Linked DNA regions of Homo sapiens: region 1 is linked to region 2. The links come from fine-mapping of genetic effects on gene expression. A gene starts in region 2. The other region holds a variant in brackets. All regions are shown on one strand. Distances are from middle to middle.

What was found.
Region 1: its variant is fine-mapped to the expression of MAPRE1 in sun-exposed skin (GTEx, PIP above 0.99).

Annotation. Positions count from the first base shown.
Region 1 is chr20:32,846,534-32,854,865 of GRCh38, reverse strand. MAPRE1 (microtubule associated protein RP/EB family member 1) reads right to left here. Exons shown (of 7, transcript NM_012325.3): 6 at 8,096-8,248; 7 at 4,461-6,194. The coding sequence ends at 6,138. Among named protein-coding and RNA genes, the nearest start is that of EFCAB8, 8.2 kb to the left of the region's middle. The variant T/C (reference allele first, on the strand shown) is at 3,718.
Region 2 is chr20:32,816,129-32,824,466 of GRCh38, reverse strand. MAPRE1 (microtubule associated protein RP/EB family member 1) reads right to left here and starts at 4,513. Exons shown (of 7, transcript NM_012325.3): 1 at 4,439-4,513. RefSeq lists enhancers at 2,795-3,464, 3,465-4,134 and a silencer at 4,207-4,796.

The DNA.
Region 1 (8,332 bases), 30 kb before region 2:
ACACTCAAAGTAAACCAGGAAAAAACTAAGGTAGAAATTTTTAAAAAGCAAATAAGGCAAGACAAATAGAATTCCAAACTGCATATATATATATAAGATATATATGATCATATATATATATATTATATATATGATCATATATATCTTATATATATTATATATGATCATATATATATATAAAATCTTTTAAATAGAGACAGGGTCTCTTGCTATGTTGCCCAGGCTAGTTTCAAACTCCTGGGCTCAAGCAATCCTTCTGCACTGGCCTCCCAAAGTGCTGGGATTACAGGCATGAGCCATGACACCCAGCCCCAAACTGCTGATAGGTTATTTTACAATTATAAATTTATATCTTGATGCCACTTACAAAGTTCTAGGCATTGGTGGGTAACCTGGTTTGCTTTCAAATGGTCACAGGACAAAGAACTGCCTCCTCACACTCAGAAACGTGTCTATGAAGGCTATTTCCATTTCACATTTCAGAACCTGAGAGCCTCCAATACAAGGAAACGAGAGTTATTTACAATTTTGATACACACACGCACCTCAAGATTTAAGGTTCTAGATTGAGGAGCCTAGAAATTTGACTCTAAGGCTTGACCTGCTCACCTAGATAACCAAATTAATGAAGCTACTGGATACAACCTCAATAGAGTACAGAGAAAGCTTCTGCACTCCAAGGACTAAGGTAACATTACTTCCCAAATCAGATTAAACCAAAGGGGGAACAGACCTTCACAAGTCACGGCTATATAGCAATTTGGGCCAGGCACAGTGACTCACACCTCCCAGCATTTGGGGAGGAAGAGATGGGTAAATTGTTTGAGCCCAGGGGTTCAAGACCAGCCTGCAATATAGCAAACCCCGTCTCTACAAAAAATACCAAAAAATTGGCCGGGCATGGTGGCTCACGCCTGTAATCCCAGCACTTTGGGAGGCCGAGGCAGGTGGATCACCTGAGGTCAGGAGTTCCAGACCAGCCTGGCTAACATGGCAAAACCCCGTCTCTACTAAAAACACAAAAATTAGCTGGGTGTGGTGGTGGGCGCCTGTAATCCCAGCTACTCTCGAGGTTGAGGCAGGAGACTCGCTTGAACCCAGGAGGCGGAGGTTGCAGTGAGCCAAGATGGCACCACTGTACTCCAACCTGGGCAACAAGAATGAAACTCTGTCTCAAAAAAAAAAAAAAAAAAAAAATTAGCCAGCCAGGCATGGTGGTGTGCACTACAGTCCCAGCTACTATGGAGGTTGAGGTGGGAGGACAGCTGAAGCCCAGGAAGTTGAGGCTGTCATGAGCCATGACTGTGCCACTGCACTCCAGCCTGGGTGACAGGAGACCCTGTCTCAAAAAAACAAAAACAAAAACAATACATAATTTGGCTGAAGTCATCTAGGTTAATGGTTCTAACTGCAGTCAAGTTCAATGTAAAAGTACACAATCCCTTCAGGCTTTCAGAGAAAACCCTGAACACTCAGTTATACCCTCGCATGTGAAAATGAAGAGAAAAAAAGCAGCAAGCGTCATGAAGATACAGAAATAAATATGAACTCATCTGGTTTTGACATTTTACAAACTAAATGTGTGAATCCAAAAGTATGATATCAAGCAGGGAGTGGTGGCTCACACCTGTAATCCCAGCACTTTGGGAGGCCAAGACAGGTGGATCACTTGAGGCCAGGAGTTCGAGACTACCTTGGGCAACATGGCAAAACTCCATCTCTACTGAAAATACAAAAATTAGCCAGGCATAGTGGCACAGGCCTGTAATCCCAGCTACTCAGGAGGCTGAGGTACGGGAACTGCTTCAGCCTGGGAGGTGGAGGTTGCAGTGAGCCAAGATCGTGCCACTGCACTCCAGCCTGGGTGACAGAGCAAGACTGTCTGGGGAAAAAAAAAAAAAAAAAAAAAAGACATATTACAACAGTGCCAGACCAGAAAAATGACGGGTGGTTCACAACACTGATCACAGACTGAGGTTCAGCTTGTTTCAAAGCAATGTTCTCTGTTGTCAACAATCAGATTTGGGTCACCCACATGCTAGCAAGCTAATCTGACTAGGCTGATCAGGCCTAAAGCTTGGATTTTTATTTGTGGACTTTGCAATGAACTATGGTCAACATCACAAAAGGAGTCCTTTATACTCAATCTTCTAAAACAATCCTTAAAAGAAAAACTACAGAGGATCACCTTGGCTAGGGCAAAAGAAAAATGCTTCCTTTTCAAAACCCTTCACATTCTAGAGAGTAAATCTTGAAGAAAATATGGGTTTTTAATCAATGAATCTGAGACATTGAATCTTCATTTAAAAGAAAACAAAAACAGGATAAACATAAGAGCCTGAAGACATAAGGGAGTTCTACTTGTCCATATACCATGCTGAAAAGGAAATACTTTGGGTGTATTTTACAAAACACCCAAAGCCTGTCTGAAGGAATGCCCTTCCGAATTCTGAGGATACAAAAGCCCTGTCCTAAGCTTTTTCTAATCTATAAACAGAATTTCAGACCAGATCTGAAGAACTTGTGCCATAAATAATGCCTCTTGTCTGTACAGAGCTTTTTAGCTTTGTGGTGCTGTTTTTTTTTGGTCCATCAGCTCCTTCTAATCCCAACAAGTACCCAGTGAGGGAGGCACGTCAGCCAAAATCATCATCTCTGTCTTGCATGTAAGAACAAGAGAGGTCAAATAGCTCAAAACTCACAAAGCAGGAGAGACCTGCAAGAGGACTCAAGTCTGATGTTCCCCTTGCCAGAATTATTATTTAAAATTGCAGACATGTAGATAAGGCCCAAATTAAAATGCAGGTTTTCAACCTCCAAACTCAGAATCTCTGGTGATGAATTTTTATAAATACATTATGTCAAACAAGTTCCCCATGTGATTCTGAAGCCCATCAGTTTGAGAATCATCAGCATGAACAATGATCCAAATTGAGCCAGAGAACCCATTTGTTTACCTATCCTTCATGAAACACAGAACCTGCCAAGCAAACCAAGCAGCAAAGACTGTATGTGCTTCAAATTCAAGAGCCAGGTCAATGCACTTGGTCAGATACCCACAGTTTTGGCTTCTCTCTTTACCAAGGTAACTTCTCAATTGACAGTAGCCAACAGTATCTTCACAAACTCCTTGCACTCCTGGAAGGTATCTTCTTGTAGATGACCAATACATATGGTGTCAAATTCCTTCTGAAGGTATTTAACACTTTAAGGGAGGTATCATACCATTAACTATGGGTGCAACCCTTGTCAAGATCATCAGGTTGGGTTTATAGAGCATCCATAACCATGACTCTACATATCCTACAACACACTATCTCTGCCCATTTAACTTTATTTCTGACAGAAAATGGCAGCAAGTCTCCTTTTGAACTCATTTCTAATAGCATATAATTTTATAAGGGAGAAAAAAATGGTGACAATTTTAGATTATTTTATAGATTAAGATCATGTTAACTGACTTTGAAACATACTTTCAGGGCTGGGTGCAGTGGCTCACACCTGTAATCCCAGCACTTTAGGAGGTCAAGGTGGGAGGATCACTTGAGCCCAGGAGTTCAAGACAAGCCTGGGCAACATAAGGGGACCCCATCTCTACAAAAAATACAAAGTTTAGCTGGGCATGGTGGTGCATGCCTGTAGTCCCCACTACTCACGAGGCTGAGGTGGGAGGATCGCTTGAACCCAAGAGGGCAAGGCTGCAGTGAGCCAAGATCA[T/C]GCCACTGCACTCCAGACTGGGCAACAGAGGGAGACCCTGTCTCAAAAAAGAAAGGAAGAAAGAATCACACCTTCAGAAAAAAAAAAAAAAAAAATCTCCCCACAGTCATCTGCCAAGCACTGTCCTGCTATATTTCTCAGAAGGAAATGCCCTGAAAAGGCTTCACAGCAGATAGGCCAGGCCTTGGACTTCCGAGAGGAAAAACCTCTTACAGCAACGAGAATTTTAAAAAGCAGGAGGCTGTACAATATAATGTGAATGAAGAAAAAAGAAGTCAGCTTAGAAATAAGCACATCTGACCGAGCACGGTGGCTTACGCCTGTAATCCCAGCACTTTGGGAGGCTGAGGTGGGTGGACCACGAGGTCAGGAGTTCAAGATCAGCCTGGCCAAGATGGTGAAACCCCATCTCTACTAAAAATACACAAAAATTAGCCGGGCGTGGTGGTGGGTGCCTATAATCCCAGCTACTTGGGAGGCTGAGGCAGAGAACTGTTTGAACCTGGGAGGCAGAGGTTGCAGTGAGCCGAGATCATGCCACTGCACTCCAGCCTGGGCGACAGACCAAGACTCCATCTCAAAAAAAAAAAAAAAAAAAAGAAGAAGAAGAAGAAATAAGCACATCTGAAAAATCAGTAAAGGATGTGAAAAGATCAGTCCTCACTGAAGAAAGAAGCACTGGTTTCCCATCACTTGAACCTAACAGCATATACCCAGGGCAAGACAAATTTCAGAAGACATGATACTCTTGAAATACAGAATTTTATTTAGAAACTGTTTAAAGTAGAAAAAAACCCTGTCAAGAAAGACCAGGTGGAAAATGGGTTCCCAATAAAATGGAATTTTAGGGCAACAAAAGTCTAAAAGGCCACAAAAGAGAAATAGCACCACTGTCATTTGAACAATGGCTAGTTACTTGCATTTTTTGGCATTGTTAATCACTGAATCTGGGTTTTCCTCTGAATTCCACACAGAGCATGCACTACACAACATTTTTATCATAAAATACTTGCTTTCTACACACATTTCAGGACAAGCTACCACCAGAAACAAATCAATACAAATACATCAGGGGCTGAACAATCTCAGTAGTGGGTGAGACACATTTTGCAGAATCCTGCCAAACAAAGGAACTGAATAGGCTGTGGGCAAAGCAAATGAGGGAGAGTTAAGGAATGAAGTATTTTAAATATTAATAATTAATTCAGACACGGTACTGTATTTTCCGCAAAAGAAAATTAACATTTAGTAACACACTAATGAATTTTATCTCCAAAGAGATTAGTGCACTGGCAAAGTATTCGGATTACAGTGGAGAGCTGTGAACAGCAGATACCGAAAACACCCCAGCCTGGCAGATCCCAAGGTAACGATGGCCTTCACTGACCACTCCCTTTGCCAGAGGTCCAGAAAGAACTTGCAGCATGATCACCTGCCTGCTGCACTTCCAACTCTAAGCAGCAAACTTCAAGGAGCCAAAGAGGAGTCCCCAGTGGGCAAGGGGAGCAGAGAAGAGAAACGTGGTAAATGTAAACCTAAAAGACAGTAAAATGGGATACAATCCCCATTCAAATCCCAGAGATGTGGGCAAGTCCCCAAAAGTAGTTGTTAGATTAAAAAACTGGGCACACCTCACTTCCCCAAAAAATATAATACATAGAAATTTCGGGGATAACTGGAAAAATAGAGAAATGCTCAATGAAAACCAAGCTCTTCAACTGTAACATCTCAGGGCTGAAACACATCCTCTATTATCCAGGCAACGATGCCTCTTGCTTTTTAGCTGGGATGCAATTGGTCAATGACACCAAATAACTTTACAGGGCAACTTTTTAAATGTTCCTTTTAGACCAAAGCCTAGGCCTATGAGGGTTCAAGCAGCCCTGTAAGACCTGTTGACAGCAGGTTCCAAAGGTTCCAAGGTCTGGCCCTTCCTTCCCAGACACAATGTCAAACGCAAAATCTCTTGTCATGTTACATTTTATATTTTGAAATGTGGAAGCATATTTTAAATACTCTTAAGGCATTTACTTATTACAACATTCTCTGATTTCACATTAGCTTAAAATTCAATTCAGTCTTTACATTTCTCCACTGAGGTCGCCACCTCAGCATATTACATAACATCTCTCCAGCATTCAGTGTGACCCGCATCCGCATGGTGAGCCCCACGGTCAGCCTCTCTGTTTTCCAGGTGAACCAACTAGGTGTTAATACTGCTCTGCTACAAGGTAAAAGCTCCTAACTCAAACTTATTGGAAAAGGAGTGAAACGTCTGCAAAGTGCACTTTAAGAAGAGGTACTTTTTGCTTATGAAAAGAAACCAGTGAGTCCTCTAAGGATAACAAAAGGGAGTATTTTACAGTTAAGCACATGATTTGGAGTGAAGAATTCCGATGTTGCTCTGCTGGTCCAGGCTGTTAATACTCTTCTTGCTCCTCCTGTGGGCCCCCTTCATCAGGTATCACAAAGCCTTCCTGAAATAGGAAAATGAGAGGGGAAAGCCACTGAAAGATCCATTTCTACTGTGAGTTCACTTTCCTCATACTTACAGCCTCTTAAAAACAATGGTTCTTCCTGGCTCTATACAGGCCAGGTGACTGCTATTTTATTTCTTGGGTAGTAGAATTGCATCTCACCAAAGACAAAAACTGAGCACAGTCAAATTTACCCTCAAACTTTTGAAAGTGATGCATATTTACATTGTCTTCATTATGGTGGTAATTTCACCCATGTCATCAAAGGTACATTTTAAATATGTGCAGTTTATTATGTCAGTTATACTTCAATAAAACTGTTTTTTAAAGAAGAAAGAAGGCCAGGTGTGATGGCTCATGCCTGTAATCCTAGCACTTTGGAAGGCCAAGGCTTGAGCCCAGAAGTTCAAGACCAGCCTGGGTAACACAGTGAGACAATGTCTCGAAAAAAAAAAAAACTAGCCAAGCCTGGTGGGACATGCCTGTAGTCCCAGCTACTCCCCAGCGGGGTCGAGGCAGGACTGCTTGACCCAGGAGGTCAAAGCTGCAGTGAGCCATGATCGCACCACCAGGCACTCCAGCCTGGGCAATAAAGTGAGATCCCCGTCACTAAAAAAAAAAAAAAATTTCCCTCAAAAATTCCTGAAGTCCCCTGTAAAGTTCAGTACTCTAACATCTTCTCTCAATAAACTGTCTATGCAGCCAGCTTTCCTTTTATGCCTTCCTTTTGTTATACTTAGGAGCCATGCTTTACCCAAAATATTCACAACAGCAAGACTGACCCAACATCAGTGGCAGAAAAATTGAGTGCACAAGGAAAAAGCAGATTCATGACTCCCACACACCTCATTCTCACTACAGGGCATTCTGGCATGGACTCAGAGCAGGAAATTACTATACTATTCTGCTGTAAAATCAGACTTCTCTTTCAACCACCATCTTATTTCTATTAACTAAATCTCTATAGCTGAACTTACTTAAGATGTGGCTCCACTAAAATAATACTCAGACTAAACCAAGGACCCCCTATATCTTCGTTGTCTTTTTTTCATTACATAGCACAGAGCAAGCTCTAAATTAAAGATTTATTCAACAGATTATCAACTTTTCAGTCATCTGTCTTAATCCCCTGAAATTCACAAGATATGTCTCAAGGACAGTGACAGTAACAGCATTATTACTACCTTGTATTTGCATAGTGCTACACATACTACCAGAAGTTTGTAGTTTGATCCTACAGACCTTGCTAGGCACACAGAATTACAAACATCACCATTAAACAGTGGACACAGCCGGATAACAATCCTAAATCTAGAAAAAAATGAGTCTTCCCTGATCAACTAACATGTCGTGATTAATATCAACAGATTTGACTGTGCAATAAACATGGATCCAAAGAAACTTGATCATAGAGTACTTTGAGGGAGTGAGAACCAGGCAAACTCCTAGGAGGGAGGAGAAAGGCATACCCAGACATGACGTGATATGTGGGCACGCCGTGAAAAAGGGAGCATGTGCCTGCTTTTCCGGGCATGCCCCGGGCCCTGATAAAATGGAGGCAGCAACTGAAGCTGAGGGATCCAAGCAATAGGAGGTGGGGTGGAGTGAGGACATGGGTTGCTTCTGGCTAAGAGCAGTTTGTGGCACTCATCACCTATCAGTGGCCACATACTACAGATGCTGGGCAAGCCAGCCACCTCCTTGTCCTATTCCTTCTTCAAAAGCTCACAGACCTCAGGCAGAAGCTAAAGCTGGGCAGAGATGCCCTCTGGCTGACTTTGAGGGGTTAAAGATGAAGTCTTTTGATGAATGCAACACTGGAATACAACAAGCATCAGCACAGAGTTCACCAACCCTTCTATGTAAAATGGAAAGAAAATATCCTCATGTCAAACACATACATCTGTGGCATACAGAATGTCTACAATCCTCTGCAATACAGGGTCGTTTTCCCCCTCGTTCTCCTGGCAAATCAATTCAATGTTCCGTAGCTTTCCGAAGTAGAAATCCCTCTCTTTCTCCAAGTCTTCAACAGTAAGTTTCAATACGTTGACCTGCACAAGACATTAAAAAGGGTGAGATGCTTGGCATTAGTATGGCAATAAAATATCAGGCAGACTTCTAACCCAAAAGGAGAT
Region 2 (8,338 bases):
TCCCTCATTTTACAGGTGAGGACAAGAGAGGCCCTGGGGTTGGCAGGCAAGCCTGCCCAGCCCCAGCCTCCACATTCTCTTCCCTCCCTTTTCTGCTAGGCTTTCAAATTCAAAACAATAAACACACAGCAATGAGTCTAATTTTCAAATGCTAGTAAATGTGGGCGTTATTGTCTATGAGCACCAGTGTAGTCAACCGTCACTCATTCTACAAATGTTTACTAGCTCTACCGCGTGCTAGGCACTGTTCTAGGGACCAGGATACAGAAAAGCAAGAGACAAGGTGCCTGTCCACAGGGAGTTCACATTCTAGTGGTGCAAAGTCTGACACTGACCAAATACACCAACAAACATCATTTCATACCAACCACTTATGCAACGGGGTTTACGGAATGTGGTCAGAGGAAGCCTCTCTGAGATGAACAGTTGAGCTTAAGGATCAGAGAAAGAAGCAACCACATGAAGCTCTAGAGATAGGGCTCTCCAGCCCAGTGAGCAAGGAGAGCAGAGCCTGAGGTGGGAACAGAAGGAGTTAGGATTTTATTCTATTAAGAAATCCACTGTTGGGTTTGTTTTTTGAGGCAGGGTGTCACTCTGTCACCCAGGCTGGAGTGCAATGCCACAATCACGGCTCACTGCAGCCCTGACTTCCCAGGCTCAAGCCATCCTCTTGACTCATCTTCCCAAGTAGCTGGGACTACAGATGGTCACCACCAAGCCCAGCTAATTTTTTAATTTTTTGTAGAGACCAGGTCTCATTTTGCGGCCCAGCCTCAAACAATCCTCCGCCTCAGCCTCCCAAGGTGCTGGGATTACAGGCATGAGCCACCACACCCAGGCACTTTCAGGTTTTAAGTGCGGTAGAATCTTGCTCTCATTACAGTTTGAAAAAGATCACATTGACTACTAGTAGAGAACAGACAGTAGGGAGGGAAGACTCAAGATAAAGGCAGGCTAATCCAGATCTAAATCAAATCCCTGAGCAGTCACCATGAGGACACACTATGAAATACCAGAGACTTCATAGTGACCTAGACACTTAACAATTTTCTTCATTTCATAAGACAGCAACATTACCAGTGGGGAGGGGCAGGGGAAAGATGCAGAGCAATCTGGAACAATCCTGAGATCCCAGCCCCTTGCTCTCTTACGGTACTTCGTTCCCTCCACCTAGTGACTAGAGTTGGTCTTTCCACATCAGTCTCCTGCACTAAGCTGCTGCAAGCCTCCTGACTCACCAAGCCACAGAATGTGACAGCCAGAAGAGGCAAATCCACCCATCCAGTCCCCTTTTTATGGGGTGACTGAGGTCTGTAGAGGTCAATAACTTGCCAGGTCTGCGTGCCCTCACATCTCCCAGGCACCTCATAGTATCTTGCACATAGCAAGCACTCACTACTTATTTTCAGGTTGGCAGAACAGCGTCAAAGAGAGAAAAATGTGTCTATATAAACTTGTCAGAAAGCAAATCATCAACACTGTTACACTCCCCAAATCAGCTGATAAAACCATGTTATGCAAGACACCAACACAATTTAGTTACTGACTCCACTGGGAAATTAATCCCTATGTTTCCAGAGCAATTCATTCAAACCTTTATGATAGGAAGTCCCACAATGAATTGTCATTATCTCGTTATTTCTGAACCATTCTCGAGCCAGATTTGGGCCAGGAAGCAATCCACTCGATGCAAACAGCTGAGGATTTCAAGCCAGGAGGACATGGGTTTGAATGTGAGGCAGTCACTCATTAGTTGTGTGATCTTAGGCAAGTTACTTAAACTCAATGTACCTCAGTTCCCTTACAAGTTAAAGCCACCTATCTGAAAAGGGTCATAGAAGGGTTTAAATTAGATAAGGTACATAAAATATTTGGCATGGCATCAAATTTAAGAGGTATTTAACAAACAAGATGTAGGGTAGGGACCTTGTCTCACTCATCCTCCTATCTCCAATGCCAAAAACAGTGCGCCTGAGACCTGCCAGCACCATCTTGCACGGAGATGCACTGCAACAGTCTTCAAATTTGTCTGTGTCAATCTGTTCTTACACAGCAAACCAGAGAGAATTTCCTGAATCACAAATCACAGCAAGTGCCTCCCTTGTTTAAAATCCTTGAATGAACAAAATACTGTGCGCAAAATCAGGTACCAGAGACATTCAAACAAAAAAGACATGGTCCCAGCTGAGCAATTGTAATCTATTATGGCGACATTCCTATATATACTGTATCGTGTGCATCATGCTGCTATAAAATCTAAGCAGCTGGTAAAGCCATGTGTGTCTCCTGACCACACCCCAGCTCAAAAAACATTAATGGCCTTTCATCATCATATAATTTAAAACTTTCATTAGCAGTACATTAATACCTGGTCCCACGTGCTCCACAAACGCTGCAGCCACTAAATACATGGATTAGGCACCCTGTGGATGTACAATGAACATCCACCGACTCAATCAATTAATTGGCTCCTCCTGACAATCAAAACAGAGCTCCAGCTCACCCTTCCTTCACAATTCCATCATTGGCAGCCATGGAAGACCCATGACTACCACACAAATCTCACCCTTACAAGGCTTCCTGATCCAGGTTTCCACCACCACCATGAAAAAGCTCCCTCAAACCTACCCAGGAATCTCTCTTCCTTCAGCAGCTCTCCTAGCAAGATCCCAAACCTATACAAATTCAACGCTGGCTCTAAAGCACTCTATTACTTTCAAGGCACCACAATAAGCCCTATGTAAAGTGGGGGAAGGAGGTGCCACCAGAAAGGACCTATGTGACCGTGGGCAAGTCACTTAATCTTCCTGCATCACAAATGGCTCATCCTGTAAAATGGGTAAAACAGTATCTCTGCACAAAGTGGTGGTAAGGATTAAACAAAAATCTACATGAAAACACTTAAGCAAAAGGCACATCACGTCCTAAGCTTCCCTCTGTGCCAAAAACTGTGCTAGGCACTTTGACGCACCACCACAAAGGGCACATCTGGATGTGTAGCTCTGGACCTCAGGGAGAAAGTGTAATAAAGAGGTTAAGAGCCTAGACACTGAAGTCCCAGGTGGGGGTTCAGCCACTTGCTGGGCTGCATAAGACACTCCGCCTCTCAGAGTCTCAGACCCCTTATTTGTAAAATGAAAGTAATCTCTCTTGCCAGGCGCGGTGGCTCACACCTGTAATCCCAACACTTTGGAGGCCGAGGCGGACAGATCACTTGAGGTCAGGAGTTCGACAACAGCCTGGCCAACATGGCGAAACCTCGTCTCTACTAAAAAATACAACAATTAGCCGGGCTTGGTGGCGCGCGCCTGTAATCCCGACTACTCGGGAGGCTGAGGCACGAGAATCGCTTGAACCCGGGAGGCGGAGGTTGCAGTGAGCGATGGTGCCACTGCACGCCTGGGCAACAGAATAAAACTCTGTCTCAAAAAAAAAAAAAAAAGGAAGAAGAGAATCTCTCTTAAAGACAGTGTTAGTATTAAAAGACACAAAGCCACATGGAGCACTTAACAGTGCTTGACACAAAACAAGTGCCCAACTAACAAAGAGCTGCTATTATCATTACTACTGTTAGAGACATGCCATCGGAGAAGCGGATGCCCGGCCTAGCATAACCTCCCTCAATGGGCCCCAGGATCCTCATCCCCAAAATGGGGCAGAGGTCAAGCTCTGCCCTGCAGCATCCGAGGGCAACTGTGAAGTAGGGACTGAACTAGCACTGTTGATACCATCCCGTTATACTGTCCTCCTGCTCATCATAATGTGGATTCCTGGAGAGCAAATCTTTGTTCCCGGGAAAACAGCCAGGGTTTAGCACGGTGCCCAACACCTAGTGGGCATTCAATAAACACACACTGAAGAAAGGAGGGAGTCCAAGAGCTGGCTTACTTTCTGCCATACATCGCGCTAAGAGTTTAATGTGGGTAGTATTACTGTCCCCGTTTTACAGATGAGGAAGCTGAGATCCACAGCGGTTAAAGCACCTGTCCAAGGTCACACCGCACGGAACCCAACCCAGGTCTGACTCCACCACCCGATCTCTCGGCCCTCAGGCAACACGGCCTCCCACAATGTGCGTCCCCAGAGCTCCCAGGACGGCCCACCTCGCCCACACCCTCCCAGGGCCCAACCACCCTGGGACCTCCAGTCGCTGCAGCGCAGGGACCACACCTCAGCGGCGGCCCAGAAACCCCCACCCCGCGTAGCAGCAGCCCACTTCCGGCCCGAGACCCCGCCCCCTGAGCAGAGCGCAGCGCGCGCCCCCAGGCCCAGCCCGCGCGCGCCGGGTGACGGCCCCGCCCTTCCCCCACCCGGCTCGAACAGCACCGCCGTGTGGAACGGCCCTGGCGCTGCCCGTAGGGCCTGCCCGCGCACGCCCGGCCTTGGCCCACGCGGCCGCCCCCCCAGCCGCACCCCCCGGGCCCGCTAGCCGGCTCACCGGCTCTCGGCAGAACCGCGTCCACTGCCCGCAACCGGCTCCGGTTCCGTCTTCGTCTCGTTCAAACCGCCAGACCCCGCCCGCCCGCCCGCGCGATGACCTCACACGCACCCCCTCGTTACGCGCCGACGTAAAGGCTCGCCATCCTCCGCCGGCTCCTTTTATAGAGAGGGTCTCAGCCGCGCGCCGGGGGCGGAGCTCGGCCCCTGATCCACAGAACGGTAGCCGAGGGGCGGGGCCCCGACCGCCGGGGCGACTGCGGCACGTGGTCGGTCGCAGCCAATGAGGTCCCGCCTCGGCCCGGTGTGACTCAGTTACAAAATCCCTATGGCAGTAACCAAAAAGAAAATTGCTTTTACAATGAATTTTTTTTTTTTTTTGCTTAGAGATGTATGGAGGTCTCGCTGTGTTGCCCAGGGTGGTCTCGAACTCTTGGCCTCAAGCGATCCTCCCGCCTTAGCCTCCCAAAGCGCTGGGATAACAGGCGTGAGCCACCGCTCCCAGGCTTACAATTAATTTCTGTAAGAATGGGTTATTGAATCATAAAGATACCTAATAGACACTTTGGGGAAACGCTTAGAAGTCAACTTTCTGGGCCGGGTGCAGTGGCTCACGCCTTTAATCCCAGCACTTTGGGAGGCCCAGGTGGGAGGATCACCTGAGGTCAGGAGTTTGAGACCAGCCTGGCCAACATAGTGAAACCCCATCTCTACTAAAAATACAAAAATTAGCCTGGCGTGGTGGTGGGCGCCTGTAATTCCAGCTACTTGGGAAGCTGAGGCAGGAGAATCACTTGAACCCAGGAGACGGAGGTGGCAGTGAGGCGAGACTGCACCACTGCACTCCAGTCTGGGCGACAGAGCAAGACTCTGTCTCAAAAAAAAAAAAAAAAAGTCACGTTCTGTGACGCCCCCGCCCCCCCATCTGCAATATCATGCGGCATATTTTCTTCTTAGTACCATAAGAAGGCATCTTGTGCCTTTACTGTCTGTCTCCTGTAAAGTCCACAGGAGCAAGGACCTCCTGAGTCCTGTTCCGGGTTGTTTCCCAATGGCTGTACATACATTCTCTCTTGCCCACTCCCTCTTTTTTTTTTTTTTTTTTTTAAGAGATGGGGTCTTGCCATGTTGCCCAGGCTGGGCTGGTCTCCTGGGCTCGAGAGATCCACCCGCATCGGCCTCCCAAAGTGCTGGGATTACAGGCGTGAGCCACCACACCTGGCCCTTACATTCTCAAGAGAGCCTTGGCTGAAGGAGGAACTGGGCTGGGCGTGGTGGCTCACACCTGTAATCCCAACACTTTGGGAGGCCAAGGCGGATGAATTACCTGAGGTCAGGAGTTGGAAACCAGCCTGTCCAACATGGCGAAACCCCATCTCTACTAAAAATGCAAAACTTAGCCGGGCATGGTGGTGGGCGCCTGTAATCCCAGCTACTTGGGAGGCTGAGGCAGGAGAATCACTTGAACCTGGGAGGCAGAGGTTGCAGTCAGACTTCGTCTAAAAAAGAAAAAAAGAGGAACTGCACCACTTTACAGCAGAAAGAAACTGAGGGACAAAGAGGCCAATTGACTCACTCAGTGTCAGAGGTAGATCCAGATTTCAAGCTGACTTTTTTTGTCTGGGTATCATTTATTCAAGTATTCAACAAATATTTTCCCTGACCAATCAGGCCCTGGTGAAAAAAAGACACAATCTGATCATGGTGGTACGTGCCTTTAGTTCCAGCTACTGGGAAGGCTGGGGCAGGAGGATCGCTTGAGCCCAGGAGTTCGAGGCTGCAGTGAGCAAAGATCACGCCACTGCACTCCAGGCCTGGGAAACAGAGTGAAACTCCATCTCTAAGAGATAAAAACGAAAACTAGACACAGCTTCTGACCTCTTAAAGTTTCCAGACTGGCAGGGGAGGCAAAGGGGACACAACTAATGACACAAATCCTTGTTAAATTACAAATCAGGCTCAATGCTAGGCAGGGACATTATGTGGTGGGCTGATGGTACTTCCACTGTGTGGAGCAGGGGCCTAGAGGTCCCTCTAGGCCAAATCTCACCCAGTTAGTTGCTGAAACCCAGTAAGACGTTCAGGGAAGAATGGGTGGGGAAGCTGGGGCAGGAGCTGTTTATCAGCAGGTCTAGAGGCATTTCAATACTTCGGTCTCGAGTACTGCTCCAAGAGCACACCACAAGAGACATGACCTCTCCTAGGTAGTGTGGAAAAGCTTCCCAGAAATGACACTTACCATGAAAGATGAGGAGTTACCTTGGCAAAAGAGTTTGAGCAAGGCCAGTTGTGGTGGCTCATGCCTGTAATCCCAGCACTTTGGGAGGCCGAGGTGGGCGGATCACGAGGTCAAGAGTCTGAGACTAGCCTGACCAACGTGGTGAAACCCCGTCTCTACTAAAAATGCAAAAATTAGTTGGGCGTGGTGGCGCGCGCCTGTAATCCCAGCTACTTGGGAGGATGGAGCAGGAGAATTGGTTGAACCCAGGAGGTGGAGGTTGCAGTGAGCTGAGATCGTGCCACTGCACTCCCGCCTGGGTGATAGAGCAAGACTCTGTCTCAAAGAAAAAAAAAAAACAGAGTTTGAGCAAAAAAAGGCAAGAAAAGCCAGGCGCGGTGGCTCGTGCCTGTAATTCCAGCACTTCGGAAGGCTGAGGTCGGCAAATCACGAGGTCAGGAGTTGGAGAACAGCCTGGCCAACATGGTGAAACCCCGTCTCTACTAAAAATACAAAAATTAGCTGGGCATGGTGGCGGACACCTATAATCCCAACTACTCGAGAGGCTCAGGCAGGAGAATTGCTTGAACCCAGGAGGTGGACGTTGCAATGAGCCGAGATGGCACCATTGCACTCCAGCCTGGGCAAAAGAGCAAGACTCCAACTCAAAAAAAAAAAAAAAAGAAAAGAAAAAGAAAAAAAAAGAGGCAACAATAAAGAATAAAAAACCATGTAACAAATGATTATAGCGACAGCAGTAATATGAACATTATGGTGAGCTGATGTCAAGCATAGATAATCAACTAAAGATATTTATAAGTGCTTTGATGCAACATCTGTTACCTGTATTTTATTTATTTATATTCTTTTTAAAAAACGAAGAAACAGAGACACTCTGTCGCCCAGGCTGGAGTGGAATTGTGTGATCTCGGCTCACTGCAACCTCCGCCTCCTGGGTTCAAGCCATTCTCCTGCCTCAGCCTCCTGAGTAGATGGGATTCCAGGCACACACCACCATGCCCGGCTAATTTTTGTATTTTTAGTAGAGACAGGGTTTCACCATATTGGCCAGGCTGGTCTCAAACTCCTGACCTCGTGATCCGCCCACCTTGGCCTCCTAAAGTGCTGGGATTACAAGCGTGAGCCACCACACCCAGCCACCTCTGTTTTATCCACAAAGACATTAACTTTTCATTAGGCTAAATAATAAACGGCGAAGCCAGTATGTCTGGGTTCAAATTCTGTTAGAATTAAATGGGAAGTGTATAAAGTTATCAGACTGCGCCTAGCACATAGTATGTGCTCAATAAATGTGATTTCTGAGTCCTTTCGTCTAAAGTCAGTTATTAAATTATGTCAATTAATTGGTATCAGCATTACCTGCAGGCCATTTTGGTCTGGAGTGAGGACATTAGTATGGGGGATGAGATCAGTGTAGAAAACCAAATCAGGAAAAGCCTCTAGGCCGGGTGCAGTGGCATGATGGCTCTGTAATCCCAGCACTTTGGGAGGCCAAGGTGGGCGGATCACTTGAGGTCAGGAGTTCGAGACCAGCCTGGCCAATATGGTGAAACCCCATCTCTACTAAAAATACAAAAATTAGCAGGGCATGGTGGCATGCGTCTGTAATCCCAGCTACTCAGGAGGCTAAGGCAGGAGAATCGCTTGAACCAGGGAGGCAGA